Linked DNA regions of Homo sapiens: regions 1, 3, 4, 5, 6 and 7 are each reported to be linked to region 2. Evidence: microRNA targets listed by miRTarBase, many of them from high-throughput screens and not tested one by one. Region 2 holds a microRNA gene; each other region holds the end of a gene's coding sequence.
Evidence for each region. Region 2 holds the annotated microRNA hsa-miR-6885-3p (CUUUGCUUCCUGCUCCCCUAG, at 1,267-1,287, opposite strand). A microRNA usually pairs through its seed, bases 2 to 8, with sites in the 3' UTR of a target mRNA and lowers its output. Matches are read on the target gene's strand: a 7mer-m8 pairs with bases 2 to 8, a 7mer-A1 pairs with bases 2 to 7 and ends in A, and an 8mer does both.

Region 1: miRTarBase lists RUNX1 as a target of hsa-miR-6885-3p. Seed matches in the 3' UTR shown: 7mer-m8 at 925-931 and 7mer-A1 at 2,482-2,488.
Region 3: miRTarBase lists ARSK as a target of hsa-miR-6885-3p. Seed matches in the 3' UTR shown: 7mer-m8 at 2,816-2,822, 7mer-A1 at 2,292-2,298 and 7mer-m8 at 1,908-1,914.
Region 4: miRTarBase lists MTUS1 as a target of hsa-miR-6885-3p. Seed matches in the 3' UTR shown: 7mer-m8 at 2,524-2,530.
Region 5: miRTarBase lists DEFB118 as a target of hsa-miR-6885-3p. Seed matches in the 3' UTR shown: 7mer-A1 at 1,565-1,571.
Region 6: the mRNA of TTF2 is a reported target of hsa-miR-6885-3p. Seed matches in the 3' UTR shown: 7mer-m8 at 3,280-3,286 and 7mer-m8 at 3,786-3,792.
Region 7: the mRNA of LRRC55 is a reported target of hsa-miR-6885-3p. Seed matches in the 3' UTR shown: 7mer-A1 at 3,655-3,661.

What each region holds. Positions count from the first base shown.
Region 1 is chr21:34,788,694-34,792,766 of GRCh38, reverse strand. It overlaps RUNX1 (RUNX family transcription factor 1), which reads left to right. Exons shown (of 9, transcript NM_001754.5): 9 at 157-4,073. The coding sequence ends at 632. Among named protein-coding and RNA genes, the nearest start is that of LINC01426, 45 kb to the right of the region's middle.
Region 2 is chr19:6,388,372-6,392,371 of GRCh38, forward strand. MIR6885 (microRNA 6885) reads right to left here and starts at 1,332; the gene lies at 1,267-1,332. It overlaps GTF2F1 (general transcription factor IIF subunit 1), which reads right to left. Exons shown (of 13, transcript NM_002096.3): 3 at 3,531-3,603; 4 at 1,073-1,266.
Region 3 is chr5:95,602,821-95,606,899 of GRCh38, reverse strand. ARSK (arylsulfatase family member K) reads right to left here. Exons shown (of 8, transcript NM_198150.3): 8 at 1,798-3,663. The coding sequence ends at 3,374. Among named protein-coding and RNA genes, the nearest start is that of GPR150, 15 kb to the left of the region's middle.
Region 4 is chr8:17,642,384-17,646,462 of GRCh38, forward strand. It overlaps MTUS1 (microtubule associated scaffold protein 1), which reads right to left. Exons shown (of 15, transcript NM_001363059.2): 15 at 1,419-3,756. The coding sequence ends at 3,543. PDGFRL (platelet derived growth factor receptor like) reads left to right here. Exons shown (of 6, transcript NM_001372073.1): 6 at 230-761. The coding sequence ends at 418. Among named protein-coding and RNA genes, the nearest start is that of MIR548V, 37 kb to the right of the region's middle.
Region 5 is chr20:31,372,334-31,376,412 of GRCh38, forward strand. It overlaps DEFB118 (defensin beta 118), which reads left to right. Exons shown (of 2, transcript NM_054112.3): 2 at 524-1,590. The coding sequence ends at 837. It overlaps LOC124900462 (small nucleolar RNA SNORA40), which reads left to right and starts at 3,986; the gene lies at 3,986-4,079.
Region 6 is chr1:117,100,797-117,104,875 of GRCh38, forward strand. TTF2 (transcription termination factor 2) reads left to right here. Exons shown (of 23, transcript NM_003594.4): 23 at 584-4,079. The coding sequence ends at 728. Among named protein-coding and RNA genes, the nearest start is that of MIR942, 8.2 kb to the left of the region's middle.
Region 7 is chr11:57,187,132-57,191,210 of GRCh38, forward strand. LRRC55 (leucine rich repeat containing 55) reads left to right here. Exons shown (of 2, transcript NM_001005210.4): 2 at 114-4,079. The coding sequence ends at 349. It overlaps LOC105369309 (a long non-coding RNA gene), which reads right to left. Exons shown (of 7, transcript XR_007062670.1): 4 at 1,790-2,020. Among named protein-coding and RNA genes, the nearest start is that of LRRC55, 7.2 kb to the left of the region's middle.

The sequences.
Region 1 (4,073 bases), not on the chromosome of region 2:
CCGGGTGGTCCCCGTCCTCCCCAGCAGTAGCATCCTGGGTGGCTTCCCATCCTCCTAGGCGGTATCATCCTGGGTAGCCCCCTGGGGCAGAGGGAAGAGCTGTGGCCTCCGCAACCTCCTACTCACTTCCGCTCCGTTCTCTTGCCCGCCCTGCAGCGGCACCCGACCTGACAGCGTTCAGCGACCCGCGCCAGTTCCCCGCGCTGCCCTCCATCTCCGACCCCCGCATGCACTATCCAGGCGCCTTCACCTACTCCCCGACGCCGGTCACCTCGGGCATCGGCATCGGCATGTCGGCCATGGGCTCGGCCACGCGCTACCACACCTACCTGCCGCCGCCCTACCCCGGCTCGTCGCAAGCGCAGGGAGGCCCGTTCCAAGCCAGCTCGCCCTCCTACCACCTGTACTACGGCGCCTCGGCCGGCTCCTACCAGTTCTCCATGGTGGGCGGCGAGCGCTCGCCGCCGCGCATCCTGCCGCCCTGCACCAACGCCTCCACCGGCTCCGCGCTGCTCAACCCCAGCCTCCCGAACCAGAGCGACGTGGTGGAGGCCGAGGGCAGCCACAGCAACTCCCCCACCAACATGGCGCCCTCCGCGCGCCTGGAGGAGGCCGTGTGGAGGCCCTACTGAGGCGCCAGGCCTGGCCCGGCTGGGCCCCGCGGGCCGCCGCCTTCGCCTCCGGGCGCGCGGGCCTCCTGTTCGCGACAAGCCCGCCGGGATCCCGGGCCCTGGGCCCGGCCACCGTCCTGGGGCCGAGGGCGCCCGACGGCCAGGATCTCGCTGTAGGTCAGGCCCGCGCAGCCTCCTGCGCCCAGAAGCCCACGCCGCCGCCGTCTGCTGGCGCCCCGGCCCTCGCGGAGGTGTCCGAGGCGACGCACCTCGAGGGTGTCCGCCGGCCCCAGCACCCAGGGGACGCGCTGGAAAGCAAACAGGAAGATTCCCGGAGGGAAACTGTGAATGCTTCTGATTTAGCAATGCTGTGAATAAAAAGAAAGATTTTATACCCTTGACTTAACTTTTTAACCAAGTTGTTTATTCCAAAGAGTGTGGAATTTTGGTTGGGGTGGGGGGAGAGGAGGGATGCAACTCGCCCTGTTTGGCATCTAATTCTTATTTTTAATTTTTCCGCACCTTATCAATTGCAAAATGCGTATTTGCATTTGGGTGGTTTTTATTTTTATATACGTTTATATAAATATATATAAATTGAGCTTGCTTCTTTCTTGCTTTGACCATGGAAAGAAATATGATTCCCTTTTCTTTAAGTTTTATTTAACTTTTCTTTTGGACTTTTGGGTAGTTGTTTTTTTTTGTTTTGTTTTGTTTTTTTGAGAAACAGCTACAGCTTTGGGTCATTTTTAACTACTGTATTCCCACAAGGAATCCCCAGATATTTATGTATCTTGATGTTCAGACATTTATGTGTTGATAATTTTTTAATTATTTAAATGTACTTATATTAAGAAAAATATCAAGTACTACATTTTCTTTTGTTCTTGATAGTAGCCAAAGTTAAATGTATCACATTGAAGAAGGCTAGAAAAAAAGAATGAGTAATGTGATCGCTTGGTTATCCAGAAGTATTGTTTACATTAAACTCCCTTTCATGTTAATCAAACAAGTGAGTAGCTCACGCAGCAACGTTTTTAATAGGATTTTTAGACACTGAGGGTCACTCCAAGGATCAGAAGTATGGAATTTTCTGCCAGGCTCAACAAGGGTCTCATATCTAACTTCCTCCTTAAAACAGAGAAGGTCAATCTAGTTCCAGAGGGTTGAGGCAGGTGCCAATAATTACATCTTTGGAGAGGATTTGATTTCTGCCCAGGGATTTGCTCACCCCAAGGTCATCTGATAATTTCACAGATGCTGTGTAACAGAACACAGCCAAAGTAAACTGTGTAGGGGAGCCACATTTACATAGGAACCAAATCAATGAATTTAGGGGTTACGATTATAGCAATTTAAGGGCCCACCAGAAGCAGGCCTCGAGGAGTCAATTTGCCTCTGTGTGCCTCAGTGGAGACAAGTGGGAAAACATGGTCCCACCTGTGCGAGACCCCCTGTCCTGTGCTGCTCACTCAACAACATCTTTGTGTTGCTTTCACCAGGCTGAGACCCTACCCTATGGGGTATATGGGCTTTTACCTGTGCACCAGTGTGACAGGAAAGATTCATGTCACTACTGTCCGTGGCTACAATTCAAAGGTATCCAATGTCGCTGTAAATTTTATGGCACTATTTTTATTGGAGGATTTGGTCAGAATGCAGTTGTTGTACAACTCATAAATACTAACTGCTGATTTTGACACATGTGTGCTCCAAATGATCTGGTGGTTATTTAACGTACCTCTTAAAATTCGTTGAAACGATTTCAGGTCAACTCTGAAGAGTATTTGAAAGCAGGACTTCAGAACAGTGTTTGATTTTTATTTTATAAATTTAAGCATTCAAATTAGGCAAATCTTTGGCTGCAGGCAGCAAAAACAGCTGGACTTATTTAAAACAACTTGTTTTTGAGTTTTCTTATATATATATTGATTATTTGTTTTACACACATGCAGTAGCACTTTGGTAAGAGTTAAAGAGTAAAGCAGCTTATGTTGTCAGGTCGTTCTTATCTAGAGAAGAGCTATAGCAGATCTCGGACAAACTCAGAATATATTCACTTTCATTTTTGACAGGATTCCCTCCACAACTCAGTTTCATATATTATTCCGTATTACATTTTTGCAGCTAAATTACCATAAAATGTCAGCAAATGTAAAAATTTAATTTCTGAAAAGCACCATTAGCCCATTTCCCCCAAATTAAACGTAAATGTTTTTTTTCAGCACATGTTACCATGTCTGACCTGCAAAAATGCTGGAGAAAAATGAAGGAAAAAATTATGTTTTTCAGTTTAATTCTGTTAACTGAAGATATTCCAACTCAAAACCAGCCTCATGCTCTGATTAGATAATCTTTTACATTGAACCTTTACTCTCAAAGCCATGTGTGGAGGGGGCTTGTCACTATTGTAGGCTCACTGGATTGGTCATTTAGAGTTTCACAGACTCTTACCAGCATATATAGTATTTAATTGTTTCAAAAAAAATCAAACTGTAGTTGTTTTGGCGATAGGTCTCACGCAACACATTTTTGTATGTGTGTGTGTGTGCGTGTGTGTGTGTGTGTGTGAAAAATTGCATTCATTGACTTCAGGTAGATTAAGGTATCTTTTTATTCATTGCCCTCAGGAAAGTTAAGGTATCAATGAGACCCTTAAGCCAATCATGTAATAACTGCATGTGTCTGGTCCAGGAGAAGTATTGAATAAGCCATTTCTACTGCTTACTCATGTCCCTATTTATGATTTCAACATGGATACATATTTCAGTTCTTTCTTTTTCTCACTATCTGAAAATACATTTCCCTCCCTCTCTTCCCCCCAATATCTCCCTTTTTTTCTCTCTTCCTCTATCTTCCAAACCCCACTTTCTCCCTCCTCCTTTTCCTGTGTTCTCTTAAGCAGATAGCACATACCCCCACCCAGTACCAAATTTCAGAACACAAGAAGGTCCAGTTCTTCCCCCTTCACATAAAGGAACATGGTTTGTCAGCCTTTCTCCTGTTTATGGGTTTCTTCCAGCAGAACAGAGACATTGCCAACCATATTGGATCTGCTTGCTGTCCAAACCAGCAAACTTTCCTGGGCAAATCACAATCAGTGAGTAAATAGACAGCCTTTCTGCTGCCTTGGGTTTCTGTGCAGATAAACAGAAATGCTCTGATTAGAAAGGAAATGAATGGTTCCACTCAAATGTCCTGCAATTTAGGATTGCAGATTTCTGCCTTGAAATACCTGTTTCTTTGGGACATTCCGTCCTGATGATTTTTATTTTTGTTGGTTTTTATTTTTGGGGGGAATGACATGTTTGGGTCTTTTATACATGAAAATTTGTTTGACAATAATCTCACAAAACATATTTTACATCTGAACAAAATGCCTTTTTGTTTACCGTAGCGTATACATTTGTTTTGGGATTTTTGTGTGTTTGTTGGGAATTTTGTTTTTAGCCAGGTCAGTAT
Region 2 (4,000 bases):
TGCCTACAGCTTTCCAAGGCTCCGCTGGACCCAGCACATCCTGGCACCCACTGCCCTGTGTGAGCTGCCTGTGTCTGTCACTATCACCCAACTGCTGTGCCTGGAGCACCCTTCATCAACCTAACCTGGACCCCTCCTGTTCTGCCCTCAGTCTGCCCCCTCTGAGAGGTCATCTCAAGTGTCATGAGCTCCCAGGGCTGGCCACCTAAGCTTCCTGCATTGTGGCACTCAGAGCTGCCTCAGAGCCAGGCACAAGCACCAACTCAGTGAACTGTCTTCAAAAACACAACCCCAGGGCCTGGGCAGTGGCTCATACCTATAATCCCAGCACTTTGGGAGACCAAGGTAGGAGGATCACTTGACCCCAGGAGTTCAAGACCAGCTTGAGCAACGCAGCAAGACCCCATCTCTACCAAAAATACAAAAATTAGCCAGGCATGGTGGGGCGTGCCTATAGTCCCAGCTACTCAGGATGCTGAGGTGGGAAGATCTCGAGCCCAGGAGTTGGAGCCTGCAGTGAGCTACGATCGCACCACTGCACTCCAGCCTGGGCAACGGAGTGAGACCCTGTCTCAAAATAAATAAGTAGGCTGGGCACGGTGGCTCACGCCTGTAATCCCAGCACTACGGGAGGCCGAGGCGGGAGGATCGCCAAGTTCGAGACCAGCCTGACCAATATGGTGAAACCCTGTCTCTACTAAAAATACAAAAATTAGCTGGGCGTGGTGGTGGCAGGCACCTGTAATCCCAGCTACTCAGGAGGCTCAGGCAGGAGAATAACTTGAACCTGGGAGGTGTGGGTTGCAGTGAGCCAAGATCGTGCTACTGCACTCCAGCCTGGGCGACAGAGCAAGACTCTGTCTCAAAAAAATACAAGTAAGTAAAATAAGATAACATAAATAAATAAATAAATAAATAAATAATAAAATCCTACAGGGATGGAAGTGCCAGCACTTCCACTGCAGCAGTGGGAATCTGAGGTTCAGAGAGGGTACCCCACAAAGTATGTAAGTTGAGGCCTGGGGATGTGGACTGGTCACTAAGCCGGCACCGCCACCGCCCCACCACTTACTTCCTGCCTGATTTGCCGTTGACCCGGAGCAGCCAGGGCTGGTCCTCGGGCCGGAACTCCTTGAGGACGATGCCGTACTTCTTCCTCCGAGCCTCCTCCCGAAGCTTGCGGTTGAACTCACTGCCCGCGCCCGATTCGGGCATCTCCTCCTCTTGGTAGATTTTCTTGTTGCTCAAGTCCCGCTCCAGCCGAGCCTAGGGGAGCAGGAAGCAAAGCCTCTCAGGGTCCCTGGCTTTGCTTGCGCAGTGCCCCCCTCCAGGAACGCCCTTCCTTGCCCTAGGCCAAGCTCTAGATTCTCAAAACCAACTTACCACTTGGCAACAAGGGAGGAGAACGGTAGCCTTTGACAAATCTGGGTAAAGGGAATTTGGGCGAGCCTTGCGCTCTATTTTTGCAACTTAAAAGCTTGAAATTATTTCCAAATTAAAATTAAAGAGAAAAAGACCACCTGGTGACCATCAAGCAGGCCATCGGAGGCAAAATTCCTTATCTGAGGAATGTAGAAGTAATTAATTAGACTTCCCTATTATCTACAGCAGGCATCTGGTTCCAGGATTCTTTTCAAAAAATGTCTAAGTACCTAGAATTTCCACACATCTCTCCAGAATGCATGCATATCGAAACTCATTGTGCTGTGGCTCACACCTGTAATCCCAGAACTTTGGGAGGCCAAGGCAGAAGGATCACTTGAGCTCAGGAGTTTAAGACCAGCCTGGCATCAGAATGGCTTGAACCTGGGAGGCGGAGGTTGCAGTGAGCCGAGATCATGCCACTGCACTCCAGCCTGGGTGATAGAGTGACACTCTGTCTTAAGAAAAAAAAGGCCAGGCGCGGTGGCTCACGCCTGTAATCCCAGCACTTCGGGAGGCCAAGGCAGGTGGATCACGAGGTCAGGAGATTGAGACCATCCTGGCTAACACGGTGAAACCCCGTCTCTACTAAAAATACAAAAAATAAGCCGGGCATGATGGCAGGCGCCTATAATCCCAGCTACTTGGGAGGCTGAGGCAGGAGAATGGCGTGAACCCGGGAGGCGGAGCTTGCAGTGAGCCGAGATCCTGGCGCTGCACTCCAGTCTGGGCGACAAAGCAAGACTCAGTCCCCAAAAAAAAAAAAAAAAAAAAAAAAGACCAGCCTGGGCAACATAGTGAGATCCTATATCTATTTCCTAAAAATAAAAAGGCTGGGCATGGTGGAAGGCTGAGGCGGGTGGATCACTTGAGGTCAGGAGTTCAAGACCAGCCTGACCAACATGGCGAAACTTCGTCTCTACTAAAAATACAAAAATTAGCTAGGCGTGGTGGTGGGCGCCTGTAATCCCAGCTACTTGGGAGGCTGAGGCAGGAGAATGGCTTGAACCTGGGAGGTGGAGGTTGCAGTGAGCCCAGGTCGCGCCACTGCACTCCAGCCTGGATGACAAGAGACTCCATCACAAAAAAATAAAATAAAATAAATAAAAAGAAACTCATTGTGCAACACTTGCTGACATTAAGGCACCAAAATCTCTACAAATTAACAATTTATCGTGACCTACATGGCTAATGTGATCCGAATTACCCTTAAGCTCTTGATTTAAGGTCCATATATACCATTTCCAAAACACTCTAGAATCAGCCACATCTCATAACCTCCACTGCCTCCAGTGCCCTGCCAGGACTCACCTAGACCAGTCCAGTTGCTTCTACCTTGGTCTCCGTTTATTTGCCCTCAAACCCACAGTTTGTCTCCCCATAGCAGCCAGATCACACACACTACAACTTCCCAATTGAAGATGCTTTAATGGCTCCCAAAGTCCTTTCTAGAGCCTCTGATGGCAGGGGCTCTGGGAAAGCCCCCAGCCCAGTCCCCTCCCTTGCCCAGATAAACCATGGCCAAAAATGTCCAACAGTGGGCACAGCTTCTAAATGTTCTCCTTTAAGGAGAGGCCTCTGGTGGGCCTACCAAACCTAACTTACAGGGACACCCAGGAGCTAGGCCTGGGCCTTTGCCATTTCCGTTTTTTTTTTTTTTTTTTTTTTTTTTTTTTTGAGGCAGGGTCTTGCTCTGTTATCCAGGCTGGAGTGCAGTCGTACAATCATAGCTCACTGCAGCCTTGAACCCCTGGGCTCAAGCGATCCTCCTACCTCAGCCTCCTATGTAGGACTACAGACCCACGCTATCAGCCCCAACTAACTTTTTAATTTTTTTGTAGAGTTGGGGTCTTGCTATTGTATTGCCCAGGCTGGTCTCAAACTCCTGGCCTTAAGCAAGCTTCCTGCCTCAGCCTCCCAAAGTGCTGGGATTACAGGTGTGAACTACTGCACCCAACCCTTTGTCATCTATCTTTTCTTCACTTGGAGAAAAGTGAGAAAATTAAGACTTAGTGACTATGACAGTTAAGCAACTATCACAACCACCAAGGTCAGGGTCAAGTTCTCTCACCACCCCAGCCCCTGACCCCCAGGACTCAGAGACTTACCTGATTCCACGTAGCAAAGTTGACTTTGTCGGCTGCATTAAAAGCCATGATGTTATATTTTTTGGTTGTATTCCTGGAGTGGATGAGAAGAGGTAGTGTCAATCCAATACAGCAATTCAATCATTAATTTAATCAGTCAATGCTATTGAACCATTAATTCAATCAACCACCCAACTGGATCGTTAATTCAATCAAATCATTACTTTAATTCAATCACTCAATTCAATTGAACCATTAATTCAATTCAATCATTCCATTCAATTGAATCATTAATTCAATTCAATTCACTCAACAAACCCACCCAGCTTCATTCAGCCTGTTTTGCCTGGCAACACTGGATACGGAAGACTCCAAGGATTCCCAGTCTGCCAGAGAAGCTAGACCCATCCTCTCCTGACCCCAGGCAGAAGAAGAGCAGATGGAGGGACGAAGATTTGGGGGAACCCAAGATGTGGAGATTATTGTGAACT
Region 3 (4,079 bases), not on the chromosome of region 2:
ATATGTGTGTTTGTGTATGCATGTGTATATACATATGTAATAAAAATCAGATATATTCAAAAGTAAAATCATTTCTCAGAAATTCATAATTGCAAAGGTAAGCTCATATAAATTCACTGAAGAACGATAAACAAATAAATAAAGGAGATGAACTTACTCATGAAGAAAACTTCAAAGACAGTTTGAAGAAGTATTAAGTTGGGTAAAATTATTTGCAGGTAAGATTTTTACTTGGAAAATAATATATCACTTGAAAAACTATTACTCACTATGAAGTGATTCAGCATAAAATAAATATATGGAAATGGAGTGCACATATAAACAAGAAGATCTTCTCTTAGAGGATATAATGGAAGGAAGATTCACTTAAAATCACAATAACTGATAAAACAACTGGAAATAAACCCACCTCTGGCTACATATTAGAATCATGGCTGGAGGGATTGACCAGCAAGACAACAATAATAGCACAGCAGGCCCAGGCTGTCTCAGAAGCTCTAATCAAGTGGTGTAGTGTAGAGCCTAGGGGGGTATTTTTTAAAGTCTCTGCTTTTCAAAAATTTTTCCGGACAAATTGATCTATATGAAGAAAACTTAGACTACTACTGAGGGATATAAAAGAAGACTTGAATAAAGGGAAAAACATGCTAATTATTTAGAATAACTATCATAAAGAATTAAATTCTCTCTAAAGTAGGTTATACATTTAATGATTTCATTTAAAAGCCAACAGGACTTTTCATTTTTGTTACTACACAAACTTATTCTAAATTTGTATGGAAAAATCAAGAGTTGCTAGGAAGGACAATTCTGAAAAAAGAAAACTATTGCAAAGGGACTAGTCCTACCAGATACTGTCTACCAGACTAATAAAATAGACTGGTCTGGCTGGGTGTGGTGGCTCATGCCTGTAATCCCAGCACTTTGCGAGGCTGAGACAGTCAGGTTGCTTGAGTGCAGGACTTTAAGACCAGTCTGGGCAATGCAGTGAAACCCTGTCTCTATAAAAATTTAAAAAATTAGCTGAGTTTTGTGGCGCGTGCCTGCGGTCCCAGCTACTAGGGAGGCTGAGGTGCGAGGATCACCTGAGCCTATGAGATTGAGGCTGCAGTGAGCAGTGATTGTGCCACTGCACTCCAGCCTGAGTGACAAGGGAAGACCCTGTCTCAAAAAAACAAAAAACAAAACAGAAACAAAGAAAATAGAATGGTCCAGTGGAAAATAAAATGTTCAGAAATGGCATAAGTATAAATGGGACTTTGGTATAGATAAAAATGGCATCGCAAATCAATGGAGGAAAAGATAATGTACTCAACCAAAGGTATTATATGATGAAGTGACATTTTTACGAATGGGAGAAGAGACAGTTTACTCAATAAAAGATCAATGGGTAGGCATATTTAAAAAAACAACCAAAGTTAGATTTCTAATATGTTTAATACATTCCAGCTGGGTCAAAGATCCAAAGGTGAAAAATAAAATTATAAAAGAAGACAAGTGGAGGCCAGGCGCAGTGGCTCACGCCTGTAATCCCAGCACTTTGGGAGGCCTAGGTGGGCAGATCACCAGGTCAGGAGATCAAGACCATCCTGGCTAACACGGTGAAACCCCATCTCTACTAAAAATACAAAAAATTAGCTGGGTGTGGTGGCGGGTGCCTGTAATCCAGCTACTTGGGAGGCTGAGGCAGGAGAATCACTTGAAACCGGGATTGCACCATTGCACTCCAGTCTGGGTGACAGAGCGAGACTCCGTCTCAAAAAAAAAAATGACAAGTGGAGAAGGCCATTCTAAATATGATACAAAATCCCAAAAGCCACAAAAGCAAAGATCTGTAAATTTTGTACTAATATTTTTAATTGACAAATCATAATTGTATATACTTATGGTGTACAAAGATTCATAAATTTGCTTACATGAAAATAAAAATTTCTACATATCAAAAAATACCAGAACAAAGTCAAAAGACAAATGACAATGACAAACTGGAAAGAAGATATTTGCAGGATCTCTTACAAAAAGCTAATATCTAAAGCACACCTGTAATACAAAACAAAGACCAACAACCAACAGAAAAATAGGCAAAGAATAGAAATAGGAAAGGCCATGGTAAAGCAGATTCCAGTGGCTGTTAAATACATGAAAATATGCTCTACGTTACTCATAAAAAGAAAAATAAAAATAGAACATTTTTATCTGTTAGGTTGGCAAAGGATAAGAAGACATGCATTGATGGTGAGATTATCAGTTAGTATACCTTCTTTAGAGGTAATTTGTAGTATCTAGTGTAATTTTGCTAAATATAGTCTTGACTCAGTAATTTCACCTCTAGATATCTACTGTTAAGTGAAAAAAAAAAGGAAAAAGAAGCAACATGCAGAACAATGTGTGCAGTATGTTACCGTTTGTGTAGGGGGAAAGGAATATATACATTTGTTTATAAATTTGTGGCCAATCTCTAAAAATGCGTAAGCAGGTGGTTTCGGTACTTGCTTCTTGGAGGGGGAACTGGATGGCAGGGAAGAGGGAAAGGACAGAGACTTCACGATCACTGTTAACCCTTTTGTACCATTTGAAGCTTTTACCCTGTATATATATTACCTATTAAAATAAAACAGTAACAAAATCAGGTACATCCAGGGTTTACATCCCGTTAAATACTCCAAATACTCCCATTAAATACATCCAAACAATCCCATCAAATACAAGTAACTCATCGAGCACCATCAAATGCTCACATACAACTATTTTATGATACATATTATTACAATATTTTATATTCTCTATTATTTAAAGGAACATAACTGTTACAGTATTTGCTTCAATTCTTTTGATACTTCCACTAAATTGTTAGAAATTGTACAAAGGCCTAAATAATAACCATTTTTGAAAATATGTGATTTTATAATCATTGGCATTTTATCTTAAAATACACTACATTCTTACAAAATAATGAAAAATTGGTAATTATTATTATTTTATTTTTATTTTTTTGCGACACAGTCTCACTCTGTTGCCAGGCTGGAGTACAGTGGCGCAATCTCAGCTCACTGCAACTGCTGCCTCCCGGGTTCAAGCGATCCTCCTGCCTCAGCCTCTGAGTAGCTGAGACTATAGGTGTGCACCACCGCGCCCAGCTAATTTTTGTATTTTTAGTAGAGACAGGGTTTCACCATGTTGGCCAGGATGGTCTCAATCTCTTGACCTTGTGATCTGCTTTCCTCAGCCTCCCAAAGTCCTGGGATTACAGGTGTGAGCCACTGTGCCCGGCCAAAACTTGGTAATTATTAAAACTGTTTCATTTAAAATACATAATTATGATCTTGTAATATATTTATATGTATCTCTAGAACACTATTTTTAAACTTTTTGTTCAAACTGCTCTTGGATTCATATGGGTTTTAAGCCACTGATCAATTGCATTTTCATACTTCCTTGGTTCCTTCTGCCAGTCTTGGTGCCACCTAAGATTTGCTATAACGTTTGAATAATTCTGTCCTATACTTTGTTTCCACTTGATAAACTGCTCTTTATTATACTGGTGGACAGAAGCAGAAACTTTAGGGTAGTTTATAATGGAATGAAGCTTCTGATCCAAAGAATAAGTAATTTCTGGAAATTTTACAGCAACATTTGTTAATTCATCTGGATCCGAGGAAAGATCTGAAAGAAAAAAAATAAGTATCTGTCAAAATAGTGACCTGCTAAAAATTTTTTTAGAATGTCATTATGACAGGTAATGTATTAGATTTTTTTTTTAGATTTTCAGTTCCTGTTAGTGTAGTAAAATGAAGGACAGTATAAATGGTAAAATAACATACCAGGAGTTAAACACCCTATGTTGCATGCCCAAATTCCCTCCTTCCTACCATTGTCCAGCTATCCCACTTTTTTTTTCTTTTCTTAAATGCCAGAAAAAGTCAAACTTTTATCATTAGTAAGCTGGTTTAGAACAAGTTCTTCCTGTTTTTGATGTCCTGCCTACTTTGACAGGCAGAAATGAATACAGTAATGCTTATACTGTACCATTTTAACAGCCTCAAACTTTCTACAAATTCTTTATATAGACAAGTCATGTT
Region 4 (4,079 bases), not on the chromosome of region 2:
AGACAGTGCCAAACAACGTAATGAAATTCAAGGGCTGTTTGGAAAAAATGCAACCTAAAATGATTCCAGTGTAGAAGCTTCCACAGCTTATGAGCTACGCATACTAAACAGTCTTTTATAAGCATGTGCTTTGCTCTCTGAAAGGAACGCTCAACAGTGTTGGGTGAGTGGGAGCTCTTTATAGCAGCTTGTCCCTCTTGCTTCAGTCTTTGTGGGTGTCGTTAAACAGGATGAAAGGCCTGTGACGATCCAAGACACTTGGAGGTTGATCCACAGAGGACTGGGACACACCACGAGAATCTCCCAGAGTGTCATTACAGTGGAAGACTTTGAGACGATTGATGCAGGATATTACATTTGCACTGCTCAGAATCTTCAAGGACAGACCACAGTAGCTACCACTGTTGAGTTTTCCTGACTTGGAAAAGGAAATGTAATGAACTTATGGAAAGCCCATTTGTGTACACAGTCAGCTTTGGGGTTCCTTTTATTAGTGCTTTGCCAGAGGCTGATGTCAAGCACCACACCCCAACCCCAGCGTCTCGTGAGTCCGACCCAGACATCCAAACTAAAAGGAAGTCATCCAGTCTATTCACAGAAGTGTTAACTTTTCTAACAGAAAGCATGATTTTGATTGCTTACCTACATACGTGTTCCTAGTTTTTATACATGTGTAAACAATTTTATATAATCAATCATTTCTATTAAATGAGCACGTTTTTGTAAAAAATAAAAAGTGGGATAAGTGTTTTTTAAGTTAAGTTGACTTAAAATACATCCAGAAAGACTTGGTGGTGGTGATACGTGGGTCAATACCAAGTATTCTCTTTTATATCACCGCAATATATTAGAATTTTAAAATGTACTAGATACAGTTCAACTACTTACCCACAAGCAACAACTCCAGACTCAAATGCTTAGAAATGTCATTTTGTCTTAGTAGCAACTTTAACAAATGTGAGTTAATTTATGAAGGTACTGAAAAAATTCAAGGACACTTCATTTTTTTAAACTGCTGCACTCAAAGGTGTAATTGTAGATTAGTCTATTCAATAACTAGAACAAGTTTTTAGAAGTTTAGCTTTCAATATGAAATAGATGCATAGATTAAGAACATTCAACTTTGTTTAGACATTTTTTACGATATTCAAAAATATTTACCAAGTTTGTCCAATTTTCTTATACAGCAGAAATTGTTACAGCCAGCCAAAATTTATTTGTCAAACATAGATAGCTTTGAATTTAGAGAAGAAGAGCTTACCTCTCACTCTAGCTCTGTGAGCCCATGACCAACTCTGCGGTTGCAGTGGAAATTCCTGGGAAATATAAACTAAGAGGAGATACGACCTTTACTGTGCTGTCACAGGGCTGTAAAAATGAAGAATTTGAAGAATGAAGTAGGTCAGAGGATGCAATTCTTGAGTATTCCAGCATTATTTATTTGATCAGAGTAAAATACACTTCCCATCACTACAAACTGAGCACAACTACAGTTGTCTACACATTCATATTTTTGACGTGCCAACATTTTGCATTCTACATGAAACATTTGGTTTAAACAAAATCTTAAGAATTCTCTATTTTGTTTCCCATCTTCCCTCCTGTTCTCTCCCATCCTCCAAAGATGTTTTATATTAACTGCTATGAGATTTATTTGCCGGTCACGTAATACGGAGGACAGCAGGGAACAACACAAGATTTACCATGCCTAGGGGATGAATGGCAAACCCAACTTTGGCTAATGTCATTGAGAACAACTTGGAAGCGTGAGCAGAGATATCTCATGAAGTGGCAGTGAACCTACATTTCCATTTATCAGAAGCAAACATGGAAGGTTACATACATGATGAAGTATTGGAAGTTAAAGACTTAAGACACAAAATCACTAATTTAAAAGAACATGCAACATGAGTATCAACTTGCTATGTAGTGTACATGTAAATGACCCAAATATTCACCTCTAGCATCCTGAATCTCTTCTTACTACAGCTGTTATTTGTACAGCCACTGAATGTAGATTAGTAAATACTGACATCACAATGTTGACACATGCAGGGAGGGGGAGATAAAGCAACAGTTCTTCCTTCCACCTTTTCCAAAGTCTCAGGATTAGGGGAGGTAATAAGTTTTGGAAAGAAACTGAAATGCAACCTGGAGGAGAGTTGGACAAGCCACATTTTCCACTCATGGGAAAGAAGCGGACCATTCTGCTACTTTCCCAAAGACAAAGGGACTCCTTAAAGGGTAACTGAAAAATGAGCGCTATCCTCCCAGACTGTTTTCTTCTATCAAGTACTGCATCATCGGTAAGCACTGAATCCTACCTTTCTTAATTATACTAGCCAATGACTTCCTTGTTCTCGTTCTTTATTCTAAGATTTCCCAAAATTTGTAATATCAAATCCAGGCTTTAGTTTATTTGGAAAGTGGTTTCAGCACCTGGAAGATGAGCTGGCTCTGGGGCTCTGGAAAATCATATTCCTTTATCCTTGTCCCAGAGAAAAGTAGGTAGGAGGTAGAAGGTTTGCTTTTGTGGCTCTGGATGGTGGAGAAAGGTAAAAGGAAAATGAGAATAATGGGAGGGAAGAAGACAGGTTAAATCTGCAAGGGTAGATCAAAGGTAAAAATAAGGTGGAAAAACCCATTGGTACTTCCCTTTTTCTTTCTTTACACAGTTAGTTAGTTAGTTTGTTTTTTTATAGAAAAATTAGGGTTCTACATTTACACATAGCCTGAGAAAATGAATTACAGGATAGTGTTAGGCTCACATGGGTAAGTAAAAAATCTACAGAAAAATCTAGTTTCAACTGACATGGCTGAACACTGAAAAACTGCCAAGAAGTTACCCCCAAAAGATACAGAGAATGTATAGACAGGGACAAGTCAAAGCTCTTCCTGTTATACCCTCTCCCTACCCTGTTACAGGGCTGAGCAGAGTTGGTGGTAGATGATCATAATTCAAGCAACTATTGCTTTTTCTTCTATGGCTTTGGCTGAAATGTATATGCTGATTGATTGATTATTATTTGATTAGTACATATCCAGATATATTCAGATTTTGACATTTAATACACAGCAGAGGAGGCTGCATCAGACACATGACACTCTGTGACATCCATTTCATTCACACCCCCCACCCCCACAGTCAGACTGAAAACTCACAAGAAGGTGTCTGTGGTGAAGAACATTACAAAGGTTATAAATCTTAATAGGGCCCTGAGAGTTTTTCCCCCTATGCTTAGGTGAAAAAGGCAATGAACAAGATGCTCTCGTTCTTTAAGTGCTTTGTGCAACAACGTCCGTGTCGATGCCGAAATCTTTTTTTAAATCTTTTTTTGGAGGAATCTTTTGGACGGAGGCAAAAGTCTTCCTCCAGAGTTCCAGTCTCAGAAGCTGCGATTCCGCCGGTGGTGACGCTCCAGTTACCCTACGGTGATCACACGTGTGCTGATATACCTCTTGTGCCCACGTTCCTCCTTGGGGTCAGTCCTGCAGACCTGCATCAAAATGCTTTCAGAGAGTCTGTGGACTTTGGGGAGGTGTCATCTGGGTGAAATGCTGGGGCTAGGGAAGGAGCCCGAATTCCTTGGTGACTGCAAAGGGATGGCGGAGGATGTGGGGGATCTCTTGGGGCTACACAGGTCCCCATTGTGCAGTTTCCACAGAAGCTCCTCGTTTTCCATAGAGAGTCGCTTGTTGACTTTCGACTCCTTCTCCAGCGACTCTTGCAGAACAGCCTGCTCCGTGGAAAGCTGCCTTGAAGAAAAAGGCCAGAAACCATGAGATCTATGTAAAAAAAAAAAAAACTTGAAAAATTTTTCTTAGCGTTTGAAACTTTAAAGTCCAAAATTATTCCTTTGGGATAAAACAGAATCCTGCACAAGGTCACAGGTATTTGGCTGGCTAAGAAAACCCAAACACAGGCCGGGCGTGGTGGCTCAAGCTCATAATCCTGGCACCTTGGGAGGCCAAGGTGGGTGGATAACTTGAGGCCAGGAGTTCAAGATCAACTTGGGCAACATGGCGAAACTCTGTCTCTATTAAAAATACAAAAATTAGTCACGCATGGTGACATGTGC
Region 5 (4,079 bases), not on the chromosome of region 2:
GAGGTCAAGAGATCGAGACCATCCTGACCAACATGATGAAACCCCATCTGACTAAAAATACAAAAATTAGCTGGGTGTGGTGGCGCGTGCCTGTAGTCCCAGCTACTCAGGAGGCTGAGGCAAGAGAATCGCTTGAACCAGGGAGGCGGAGGTTGCAGTGAGCTGAGATCATGCCACTGCACTCCAGCCTGGTGACAGAGTGAGACTCCATCTAAAAAAAAAGATGTACTTTCTTTACTCAGGTACCTTTACTCACAGGGTACAGGTAGCTTCATTATAAGTGGCCCCAATTCCTCATGACTAAAGTTTCTTTTCATTGATCGTAAGATTCATCCCACTTTCAGAATAGTTAAAAATTGACAAATGGGAGGTTGAGTATTTGCCAGACCTGAGGTGGGAGTCTTGCAGCTGTCATCTAATTATGATCCACAGTGTGGATATAGGATGCGAGATATACAGTCATGCTAGTGAAATTGAGAGCATCAGTAACCCAAAATCAATGGTCTTTCCTTTTATTATTCAGCCTATAGTGGTGAAAAAAAATGCTGGAACAGATCAGGGCACTGCAGGAAACAATGCAAAGATGGAGAAGCAGTGAAAGATACATGCAAAAATCTTCGAGCTTGCTGCATTCCATCCAATGAAGACCACAGGCGAGTTCCTGCGACATCTCCCACACCCTTGAGTGACTCAACACCAGGAATTATTGATGATATTTTAACAGTAAGGTTCACGACAGACTACTTTGAAGTAAGCAGCAAGAAAGATATGGTTGAAGAGTCTGAGGCGGGAAGGGGAACTGAGACCTCTCTTCCAAATGTTCACCATAGCTCATGACTTCCTCTCGGCTATCACTCACCCCTGTCCTCAGAGTGATAAACTAAGTCACATACAGATAAAGCACTGAAAACACCACAGTGACCCTCCCACCCCCCACCAATATGTAATTCTATTAATAGAAACAGCTGTGTAAAGAAGTCTAAAATTTTCACTATTTCCAATGATAAACTCTTCAGTGCTCTTCTTGAAATGTCACATTATTTCCACAACAAGTTATAACCTATTTTTAGTATTTCTTGTTTGCTAGTGACCTATGCACAACTTCAATAGCTTAGTTAGCTATTCCAACAACAATTTCTTCATGTATCGTTCTGTCTTCTCAACAGCTGTCTTCATGGCAGCATAAGTGGTCATGATCAAAATTCTAAATCTTTGCATCTGTGAGAGTAGCTACTATGACACTAAAAGCTTTTTTTCTAGAACAGGAGACACTTCAGGTGAAAGCATTCATTCTCCTACTAACTATGGCCTTGGAGCCAGGTTTTATCTCTCACTGTAGGAAATTGGCCGCCCCAGGTGTGAGCTATGAAGACTCCTTTTTGCCCCAGTGGCTTTGGGGTTGAAATGCTGTCGAAAAGCTTTTATGGCTCTGTAGACCCATCTTTTTGACCAAGCCTTGATCACACATGGACATCCAAGGGTAATCATGGACCCCCAATTGTGGGTGAAAGGATGGATCATTTATCTACCTGATTACTGAGAGCTTTATTTGTCTCCCTCTGATAGCAAAAAAAAAAAAAAAAAAAAAAATCTTCACATCCTATCCCATCCACATAACTCTACAACAGACTTCATTTTACAAATTTTCCAATCTTGCTCTTTCCAAGTACCTAAACAACCAGCCAATCTATTACCAGCGTTCATGAATTACTATAGATCCATACCAAGCCTTCCTTCTACTGGAAGGTTTTCCCTTAACCACTGTCTTTTGGGCCACTGCCATATCATGCTGTAATGCAGCACTTCTGTCTGGTGCTAGCATGTCATGCAGACCATTCCACAAACCTGGCCTTGCTTTTTCCTCCTTTATTAAGTAACCATAGGAACCCCTCATGATACCATTAGTGTGTGATGAAGAAGAGGCAATAAAGCAGGAATGGGTGCCATAGGCATCTGAACCACCTGCTTCTGCAGTTTATGCTTGCCAGACCTGCTAAGTTCCAATTTTGAACATATTACTTTCAACTAACATTGGAATTCTTCTTCACAGGTCTAATTGTATTATTCAAGGGGTTAGATAATACCTAATTCATGACGGGAAATTTCTGTCTCATTATTTTTTTAAACTTGTTATTCCTGATAATTCTGAAATTTGAAGTCTTTGAAAGTCTGAATCTCTAGACTGATTTCTGCTGACCTTAATTCATGGTGCCTTATTTCCTTGTGTGTTTTGTGATTTGGGGCTCTGCTCTGTTTATTTTCCTCAGAAGTTTAGTTGAGTAAACTAGTTGAGTCCTGAGTTAAAGGTCTACTCCTTTGTTTTCTTCTGTCTTTTTGGCACTACTAGTCTGGGACAACTTTAAACTTGATTTTTTTTTTCATACGACCCATGTACTGTGAATTCAGGCTGAGAGACTTTATGAGATCTACCTTGAGGTTATAAATTCTCAGTGAAGATTTTTTTTCTATTTACTGAATACTTAGGTTCATAATCAGGCAATTTTCCTTGAAAACCTCTGGTGAAGGAAAAGGAATGTTTTATGTATCTGCTTTATTTTTACACAGCATACATAACACTTTAAGGACTGAGATTTATATAGGGGTCTCCTATTAGACTCGCATATTTTTTCAGACCCTAGTCACTGCCTTCTCTCCCCTGCTTACCCCCACCTTGGCCAAAGCCATGGAAACCAAAACTCAAGTTCACCTGATTCAGCAAGTACCTTTGTGACAAAAGCTAGCGTCAGTTACTGCCTGTGAAAGAGTGCCCACTTGCACTTGGTTTTAATATTCTTTTTTTTCTTTTTTTCTTTTTTTATTTATTTTTATTTTTTGAGACAGAGTCTCAATCTGTCGCCCAGGCTAGAGGACAGTGGCGCAATCTCGGCTCACAGCAACCTCCGCCTCCCAGGTTCAAGCGATTCTACTGCCTCAGCCTCCTGAGTAGCTGGGATTGCCAGTGCACGCCACCATGCCTGGCTAATTTTGGTATTTTTAGTAGAAACAGGGTTTCATCATGTTGGTCAGGCTGGTCTCGAACTCCTGACCTCGTGATCCACCCGCCTTGGCCTCCCAAAGTGCTGGGATTACAGGTGTGAGCCACCGCACCCAGACGGTTTTGATATTCTTGGCCTTACTTTCTTGCAAGGTTAAAGATGCTTTAAAAGTTTTGTTGTATATTTTAAGTAAGTTTTTTTCACTGTTTTCAGTGGGAGGATCAGCCTGGGTTCCTCAACCAGTATTCTTCCTGAAACAGAGGTCCAGAACCAACACTTTTGTCCAGATCATAAACCTTGTTGTTGGGATGGGTGGCAGCACCAGAGGAAGGAGAAAAAAAGATCATTGTCAAAGGATGAAACTATCACTCAGTGTCTAAAACCAAAATGCTGAAATGATTGCTTTCTTAAGAACAGGAAAGCCATGCTGGTCCATCATAAGCTCCTTCACCAGAGTGAAGTGTTGAACTTACACAGCATTTGGGGAACACATTTTGAGGGAGTTGTGTTGGTTACAGAGGTGGGAATTGGTTAATGACAATTTAGAAGTGTGTACACTGAAATGAATTCAAAGCTGATTGGCATAATCAAAGCATAAGGCTGTCACTGACAATGAGCTTTCAGAAGTGTGTTCACTGAAGCAAGTTGTCGTTGATCAATGAAAAAAGTTTAAAACAGTTCAAGGTATGTACTTATTATCACGACCATAGGACTGTCAGCCTTTTCCTAGGAATGTGGAGAGTTTTTATTCTCAGAAGAGAAGAGTAACCCCAGAAGAATCCAATGAGACAAATAACAGAAGAGGAACCCCAAAAGATGATGTAGAAGGGGGAGCCTGAAAGTTAGGAAGAAAACAAAGAGTGAAATCACAGAACCCTAGGCAGTTAAGGTTTTCAAGGGGGGAATAACCTATAGTGGAAATGCTGCCTAGAGGCAGATTGAGATACAAGTTGAGGAACATTCTGAAACTTTCAAAACGGAGGTCCAGCTACACTTGTTTATATTTTTGTTTAACTTGTGGACAAAGATTTATAGACAGGTGCAAAAAATAAATCCTCTTTTGCAACCCAGAACTCATTGTTC
Region 6 (4,079 bases), not on the chromosome of region 2:
TTATAGCACTTACCAGGTCATATTATTGTTTATTTTCATGTTTGTCTCGCTTTTGTTCTGCTTTGGAGCAAGACTATATTCATCTCTCCATCCCCACACCTAGCATAGTGTAGTGAGTGCTTAATCAATACTTTTGAATGAGTGAATGAATGACAACAGTGCCATTTACTTGGTTTGAAAACCCTGTTTTTATTGTGAATTCACTAAGAAATACTCTACTTAAACTAGCAGAAATTTGATAACCTTTGAGGCCTTATGGACTTACCAAGGTAGAACTTTTTGGGTAAAAGCTGGATCTCTATACTTTTTTGGATTGGGATATCTTTTGCTTATTTTGAGTTTGTTTCAATTACCTTAGCTTCAGAAAGTATTAAAATGCCAATGTGGGTCACATCCTTTTAAAGGGATATATATCTAGTCAAGGTTGTTTGGATTCCTCAGACAGGGTTCTTAACTGGACCTAAGAAGACTTAAAGGAAGAAATCTCATTAAAAATGAAAGCATAATAAAAGTTTGAATATATTATTAGATGTGCTGCTTAGGGTTTTTGATAGTTTGCTTATTTTTTGTTTTTGTTTTTTAGATTTGTTTGTGAGGGAACAGTAGAAGAAAAGATCTTACAGCTCCAAGAAAAAAAGAAAGATTTGGCCAAACAAGTTCTATCAGGGTCTGGAGAATCTGTCACCAAGCTCACCTTGGCTGACCTCAGAGTCCTTTTTGGCATCTAACCTCCTGTGGATAAGGGCTCAGAATAGCACCATTGCTGGTTTGTATTAGGATCTGGGAATAACAACCTAACCATGAGCCTTGAACTCTGTTCTTTGCATTTCAATTTCACCGTCAAGCCTTTCACCTTCCTCAAAATGAGGCATAATCTTATCCCCAGAATTGAGGAGGGGTTGTGTTAACCAATTAGTTAACCAATTATGTTAATAATTTATTTAATGAGTGGTATGGAAACCAATTGATTTTTTTAGATAAAAGAATATGTTTTAGAGTTGGATGATTTTGGAAAACAACTCTGGCAGAATTGTATATAAGCTTCAGTAAAGTTCAAAAAGCGGGCCAGGTGTGGTGGCTCATGCCTGTAATCCCGACACTTTGGGAGGCCAAGGCAGGAGGATGGCTTGAAGCCAGTAGTTCAAGACCAGCCTGGGCAACATAGTAAGACCCCATCTCTATGAAGAATAAAAAAATGAGCTAGGCGTGGTAGTGCACACCTGTAGTCCTAGCTACTTGGGAGGCTGAGGCAGGAGGATCCCTTGAGTCCAGGAGGTTGAGGCTGCAGTGAGCTGTGATTGTGCCACTGTTTTCCAGCCTGGGCAATACAGTGAGACCCTGTCTCAAAAAAAGGAAAAAAAAGCTCAAAAAGTTCTGTGTTGCCTTTCTCTTCTTAGCTGATGATGGGAGAACCAGTTACTACCTTCTCTAACACAGGCTCCATCCTATCTCTTCATCTCTTCTTGCCAGTGATGTTGCACCTGTAACCATCTTTTTATGGGTGGAGCAGAGAGTCAATCCCTGCAGCCACCCTGCAGCCAGCCATCTCTGCAGTTCTCTCAGTGCAGGCAGTTCTTCCTCTCAGGCTGAAGATCAAGGAGATGCTTTGTACATGAACAGATGCTGAGTATCTGTTATCATTGTATTGTTTAGTGTCAGTGTATCATTTAGTATTTGTATCACTGTACCATTTAGTGTTGTATATCACTCAGTCATTTAATATTGGTTATCACCATACAGTTTAATATTTGTATCATTTGGTTCATTGTATCGTTTAGTATTTCTATTATAACATTTCTATTTGTAGTATTTGTATAATATTTGTGTCATTTTTAATAGTATTTGTATTTTTACAAATTTGCAGTATTTGTAGCATTTAGTATCATTGTTTCATTTAGTATTTGGTACAATCTAATAAATACTAATCCAGTCCAATACTAATCCAATCCAATACTAATAATACTATTGGTACAATCCAATACTAATAATACTATTGGTACAATCCAATACTAATAATACTAACAGTAGTATTGATACAATCTAATAAATAATGTGTTTGACAGTGTAGCAGAAATAATGCTATGTGTTCACCAAACCCACTTCCTTTTCCTCCCGGGCACCCAGAGAGACTGTATTTCCCAGTTTTTGCTGCAGTTTGACGGGGTCCATATCAATGGACTGTGGAGAGAAGCGATTGATGTAAGTCACTTCTAGGTGGCCCTCTACCACTTTCCAAAAGATCATTCATGCTGTTTCTTCCCTCCTCAGCCTATGGGATGCAAAGGAACTGATGGAAGATTACAAGGCCCTAGGGAAGGTGAAGCCACTAGCTCAGCAGTTCTTAGCCTAGTTTTTGGCCATCAGCCCTTCTATTAGACTAGTGAAGCCTCAGTCCCAGGATGGCTCCCCATGTACACTTCCCTCCTCGCCCCAGCTCACCTACACTGGACTATGACATGATCAAGGAATCTTTTTTTTTAAGCTACTGAGATTTCTGTGTTGTTTACATAGCAGTTTGTACCCTAAACAAACACTTGAGATTTTATACTTCAGGAAACTATTCAGATTTCCTTCTCATTAGCAATTGTTCCAAAAACACTTACTCTGCTAATTTCTGCTAGAAAGAATCACAGTTCTTCTAACACAGAAACATTTCTGTCCCTTGAGTTGGGAAACAAGACCCTATGTTAACCCAGTCAGAGTGTGGACTGAGGCATTCGGAGCCTATTTAAGCAGAAGTTTTCTATAAGGACAAGATTTAAAGGCTTACAAAGGTAAAGACAATGGCCTGGTGGGAAGAATTCTAGTCTAGAACGTTTGAGATTTGACTCTAGTTCTAGGTTCATCTTAGCTGGGTGTGTAACGTTGAAAAAATTGGCCGGGTGCAGTGGCTCAGGCCTGTCATCCCAGCACTTTGGGAGGCCGAGGCAGACGGATCACGAGGTCAAGAGATCAAGACCATCTTGGCCAACATGGTGAAACCCCGTCTCTACTAAAAATACAAAAATTAGCTGAGCGTGGTGGCGTGCGCCTGTAGTCCCAGCTACTGGGGAGGATAAGGCAGGAGAATCGCTTGAACCTGGGAGGTGGAGGTTGCAGTGAGCTGAGATCGCGCCATTGCACTCCAGCCTGGTGACAGAGCGAGACTCCGTCTCAAAAAAAAAAAAAAAAAAAAAGAGAGAGAAAAAAATCCTTACTTTCTCTACACTCTGATTTCCTCATTTGTAAGGTGGGCAGTTTTCAGAACTTAGCAGCAATAAGGTTTCTGATAAAATCAAGAAGCAAAGGAAGTAACATTGCCTTTTTGAAGTTTTGCTATAAGATTGACATACCAAGGTAAAGATTGAGTCACCTGAGAAGCAGTGGCTCCCAGGCCAGCAAGAATGTACAAACCTGGCTCTGCCATTTGCTGATTGATATTAGGCAAGTTGCAGATTCCTTGGACATCTCAATCCTTTCATCTGTAAAATGTGTGGATTAGCATGTATCTCATGCTCCACTGGGAATTTCATAGCAAATATATATACTACAACATGGTTGACCAGATAGATCAGTAATGTCAACTAGAAGGTATTAGATGAACATTGTCAGTCTCCAATCAAGCATTGTTTAGGGGAGAGGAATTCTTTCAGGTTCAAGCATTCTGGCTTTTAGTTTGGAGAGGGATGCAGGGATTGTAACTTAAAATCTTCAGATATTGAGGCCATTGACAAGTAATCTACTGTAAGGTAGATGCCTCCTGGTATTTTAAAACAGCTTTTCTAATTTCTCATGTTATTGTACATAAGCAAAGCAACCTAGTTATGTCTTGGGTAGGTGTTCTTATAGCCGTGAGATGCTACTGACTTGAGGTGGATGCAGAAAAAAATGGAACCACTGCCTTAATGGGATGGAATATACTAAACATGCATTCTTAAATCCTAGTGCTGGGATGGATTACATGAATTACATTGTGGAGCTGCATATGTGTCTCCCCTCTTCCCTCCCTGGGGGTTAGGCTGGGTTTGTTTGGTTTTTTTTGTTTTGTCCTCATGAGGCTTAGCATCTAAGGGAGACAGGCATGAATTAACAGAAGTGGC
Region 7 (4,079 bases), not on the chromosome of region 2:
GAAGAACTTCAATGAATGTCTTTCTTACTTTTTCCAGCAAGCGGTTGTGGGTGGACTTTCCAATCCCCTCTCCTTCCCTGGGTACCTCACCCTCCCTGGCTTCTGTGTTACAGATTCTCAGCTGGCTGAGTGCCGGGGCCCTCCTGAAGTCGAGGGCGCCCCGCTCTTCTCACTCACTGAGGAGAGCTTCAAGGCCTGCCACCTGACCCTGACCCTGGATGATTACCTATTCATTGCGTTCGTGGGCTTCGTGGTCTCCATTGCTTCTGTGGCCACCAACTTCCTCCTGGGCATCACTGCCAACTGCTGCCACCGCTGGAGCAAGGCCAGTGAAGAGGAAGAGATCTGACATGCCTGCCTCTCATCCCTCCATGCTGCTGACCGCCACAGCTGCTGGCCACCAGACGCCCTCCCTGACTGCTCACTCTGGTTCCATGGTGACCTGGCTGCCTCAGTCATGGTTCAAGCAAGGTGGGGACACTCATTTTGTATGAGCATCTGCTTTGGGCCAGGCGGCACGCTAGGAATTGGGAACATCAGATGAACTGACTCAGTCCCTGCCCTCAAGGCACTTCCCTCTGGTCAAGGAGAGAGATCCAAAAACTATTCCCTTTAAGACTATATGTCAGGACTCTGAGCACGTCATTATGGAGGCCCAGAGGAGGAGCCATCATCTGTATCTAGCAATGTCCATGAGAATTATAAGATTAGAGTGATTTGTGAACTGGGTCATCAGGAAATATCTACTTTGTCAGGTAGGCAAAGAAGGGTGTCTGCACATGGCAGAGGCCAGAATATGCATAGTGTGCTGTGTTGAGAAGAGTGAACAGTTCCTGGTCACTTACTTGTATAGAGGGGGTGTGGCACAGAACTCAAACCTACCCCTCACCTCCTGACACCAAAACTGTCAGCTCTCAGCAATGCCAGCCACTGCCTACAGGGAGTAAGAACACCTCTATGACAGCCCCTGGCCTCCTTCCACCAGCAGCTACCAGGTGAGACCACCTCCCAGTGACTGCCCCCATATGACCAAATGTCACCAGTTGGTGAGGTCCCAGGCAGCAGGCTGAGGATGGACACTTTCAATGCCCTTGCTCCTGCCTCTCACTCAAGTTTTGCTTCAGAAGAGAGAGGCAGGAGGCCCAGCAACTGGGGCAGCAAGAGTCCTGGCACCTTGGGATCCTAATCATGTGACTGTTCTTGCCACAGTGCTCATGCCACAGGGTCTCACCAGGAAAGTGCACTGTGGGCCACAGACCCACAGCCTGGCAGCACCCAGAGCTAAAAGGGGACAAAGGCAGCACAGTTATGACCATATGAGGCTTTGCATTTTCTTCTAAGCAACTTACCCACGTTAAGCATGAGGGTGAGAGAGCTATTAAATACTAAGCCCTTGCCAGTGTCAGGTACTTTGAAAAGCTCTCTGCACAAACCATTCCCTTTGACACACACACACACAAATCTTTTGAGGTGAACGCTGTTGTTCCCATTTTACGGATGAGGCAACTAAGGCTCAGAGAGGTTAAAGTCACATGCCACTATGAGCAAGATAAAGTCTGTGCTCTTTCTACTGCCCCATCCAAGTTGGGGAACATCACCATTCCCTCTAGAGTTATATAAATTCAAATTCAACTAGAGCTGACAAAGTTCCTCATAAGGTCCAGGCACTCCTCTGGGCACTTTTATATCTATTGACTCACTTCTTTCAATTCTCACAGCAACACTGCCTGGTGGTTTTTATTATCCCCATTTGACAGATGAATTAATCGTAGAGAGTTGAGTGACTTACCCAAGGTTGTCTGGATAAGCCCTAGAAGGAAGGCGGTAGGCAGCTCCATTCAGGGAAACTGCATCTAATCAGTCAGTCAAAAATCAAGTAACTTTACGAGCAAAGCACAATTATCATCATCGTGGTCTTCTTCATCAGTTTCGTCAGCAGCATCATTATCTTCCCTCTATTTGTTCAGCACCGGATAGTTCATGAGTATTTTTGCATCATTCTCCTTGACTTTTCACATCCCTGTGCAGGAGGTAAATCAAACATCAGTAATCCTGTTTTACAGATGGGGAAAAAAGTCTCAAGGTTGGATATGACTTGCTATGTGGCAAGGTTGGGGCTCAACCCTAACACAGTTCTCTTTCCAGTGCTTTCTCAAGTGCTTGGGGAAGAGAATGCCTCAGAAGGCTGGGTAGTGGGGCCCTGGAATTCAGCATCCATGAATGTGCTAGTGGATAAGCTAAATAGAAGGCAGCCAAACCCATCTGCTGTACAGATTGAACTATGCTCACGGTAGGGCAAATTGCAGGCTCTGAAACAGAGACTACACAGGTAACACCTGAATAGGAGACTCCTGCTTTACAATGTGTAGATAAAACATCAGCAATGGTGGCCATGGTGGCAGTCATGTGAAAAGTAAGATCTTTGGGAATCAAGAAAGGAAGCTGTGTTAACCACTCCTGCTCAAGCCCTGCTGCGTGTGTTGCAAGAGATACTAAGAGAGCAAGAAAGCTATAGGTGAGAACCTCTGCAGTTTAGGAGAAGAACATCAAGGCACAGTCCAACATGCTGATAAGTCTGGCCAGGAGGAGAATTAAAACAGGGGCTTTCCACACCTCCCTTGCCCCAAGCTCCAGCGGTATTCTATCAGCCCATCCTCCTGGAAAGCCTGAAAGGAATGAAGGAGGCTAATAAGTCATCTTCCAGGAAGGCATCCCTCACTCGTGCTTCCCTGAGCTAGTCAACCAAAAGAGTCTTCAGAAACTTTGCTAGACCTGAAGTACTTGAACCTGTGTCCCCTGAATCTTTCTTACAACATCTGGGACAAATCCCTGGCCCTGTGACATCCGAAGCAGAACTGTGCCCTGCTCTCTCCTTCTGTGATGACCAAGGATGGTGAACTCAAGTTGTTCTCTACAAGCCAGGCCAGCAACCTAAATACTTGGAGAGGAACTTTTAGAAACTATAATCCTGACAAAATAGAAAAGTTTCCCATAGGGGCATACCATAATACTATAATAACCTCCCAGGAACTATTGTTTGCCAAAATGTAGTTAATATATTTTAAGATATATGCTTTTTTGCATAGGACTAGAACCAGAAAAGACACCAAATGCCCCCTTGACATCAATGTCCTTTCTAGTGGGACAATTTGGTCTCCATTAATGCCAAGCCTTTCTGAACAGGATACATGGCTTTTAAAGGACAGATGTTTCTCCTGCTGCTAGAAGTTCCTCAGTTTACTAGAGCACAATGAGGAAAGTATTCAACCTCCCTACTGCCAAGGAATTCCCTGCTTCTCCCCCACCGCCATCATCTTGTCCAAGCTATCAGAAGCAACCTTCTAGAGATAATCTAACAATCCTGATTAGAATTGCTCCCATATCCCTGGTGACCACAGGCTTCATTCAAATTGTCCAAACTGGTTAACATGTATGTGATGGGGTATCTCTGCATCTGTATGTCTGTCTGCGAGGTTCCTTGTATATTGGCTGTCCGCTGACTTGGGACAGATCTCTCTAGAACTTGGGTTCAGTTCTCTGACATAGTCCACTCAGCCATAGGCTGAGTGGCTAAATATGCATAAATAAGCATGCCTAAATAGGCATATATAGGTTGGTGCAAAAGTAATTGCGGTTTTTGCCATTAAAAATGATAGCAAAAATCCCAATTACTTTTGCGTCAATCTAATATTACATTGCTTGATAGATTAAGATGGAATCCCACCAGGTTTAGGGTAGGACTGGATGCTCAAAAAATAAAGAAGGAGAAAAATCTGTGGCAGAGGCATCCTAATGAGAACCTGACTTCTCCTTGCTTCCCTCTGCTCTCTCCTGCGCCTCAGAGACTTGTCCCCATTGCAGAAGCTTCCTCCATGCTAGGCCAGAGGATATCAAAGTTTAGTTTGGTCAAGATTTGGGCCAAGAAAATTCCTTTTTAGAAGAGCCCTCATATCTGAATCACATCACTTTGGGCCAGTTATCTCTGGTCACCCTCAGACAAACCCTCGTCTCTTTTTCTCCCTTCCTAGAGGAATTCCCAGGGAACTTTGCAGAAATAGGTCTCCAGAGTTGCTACAGAG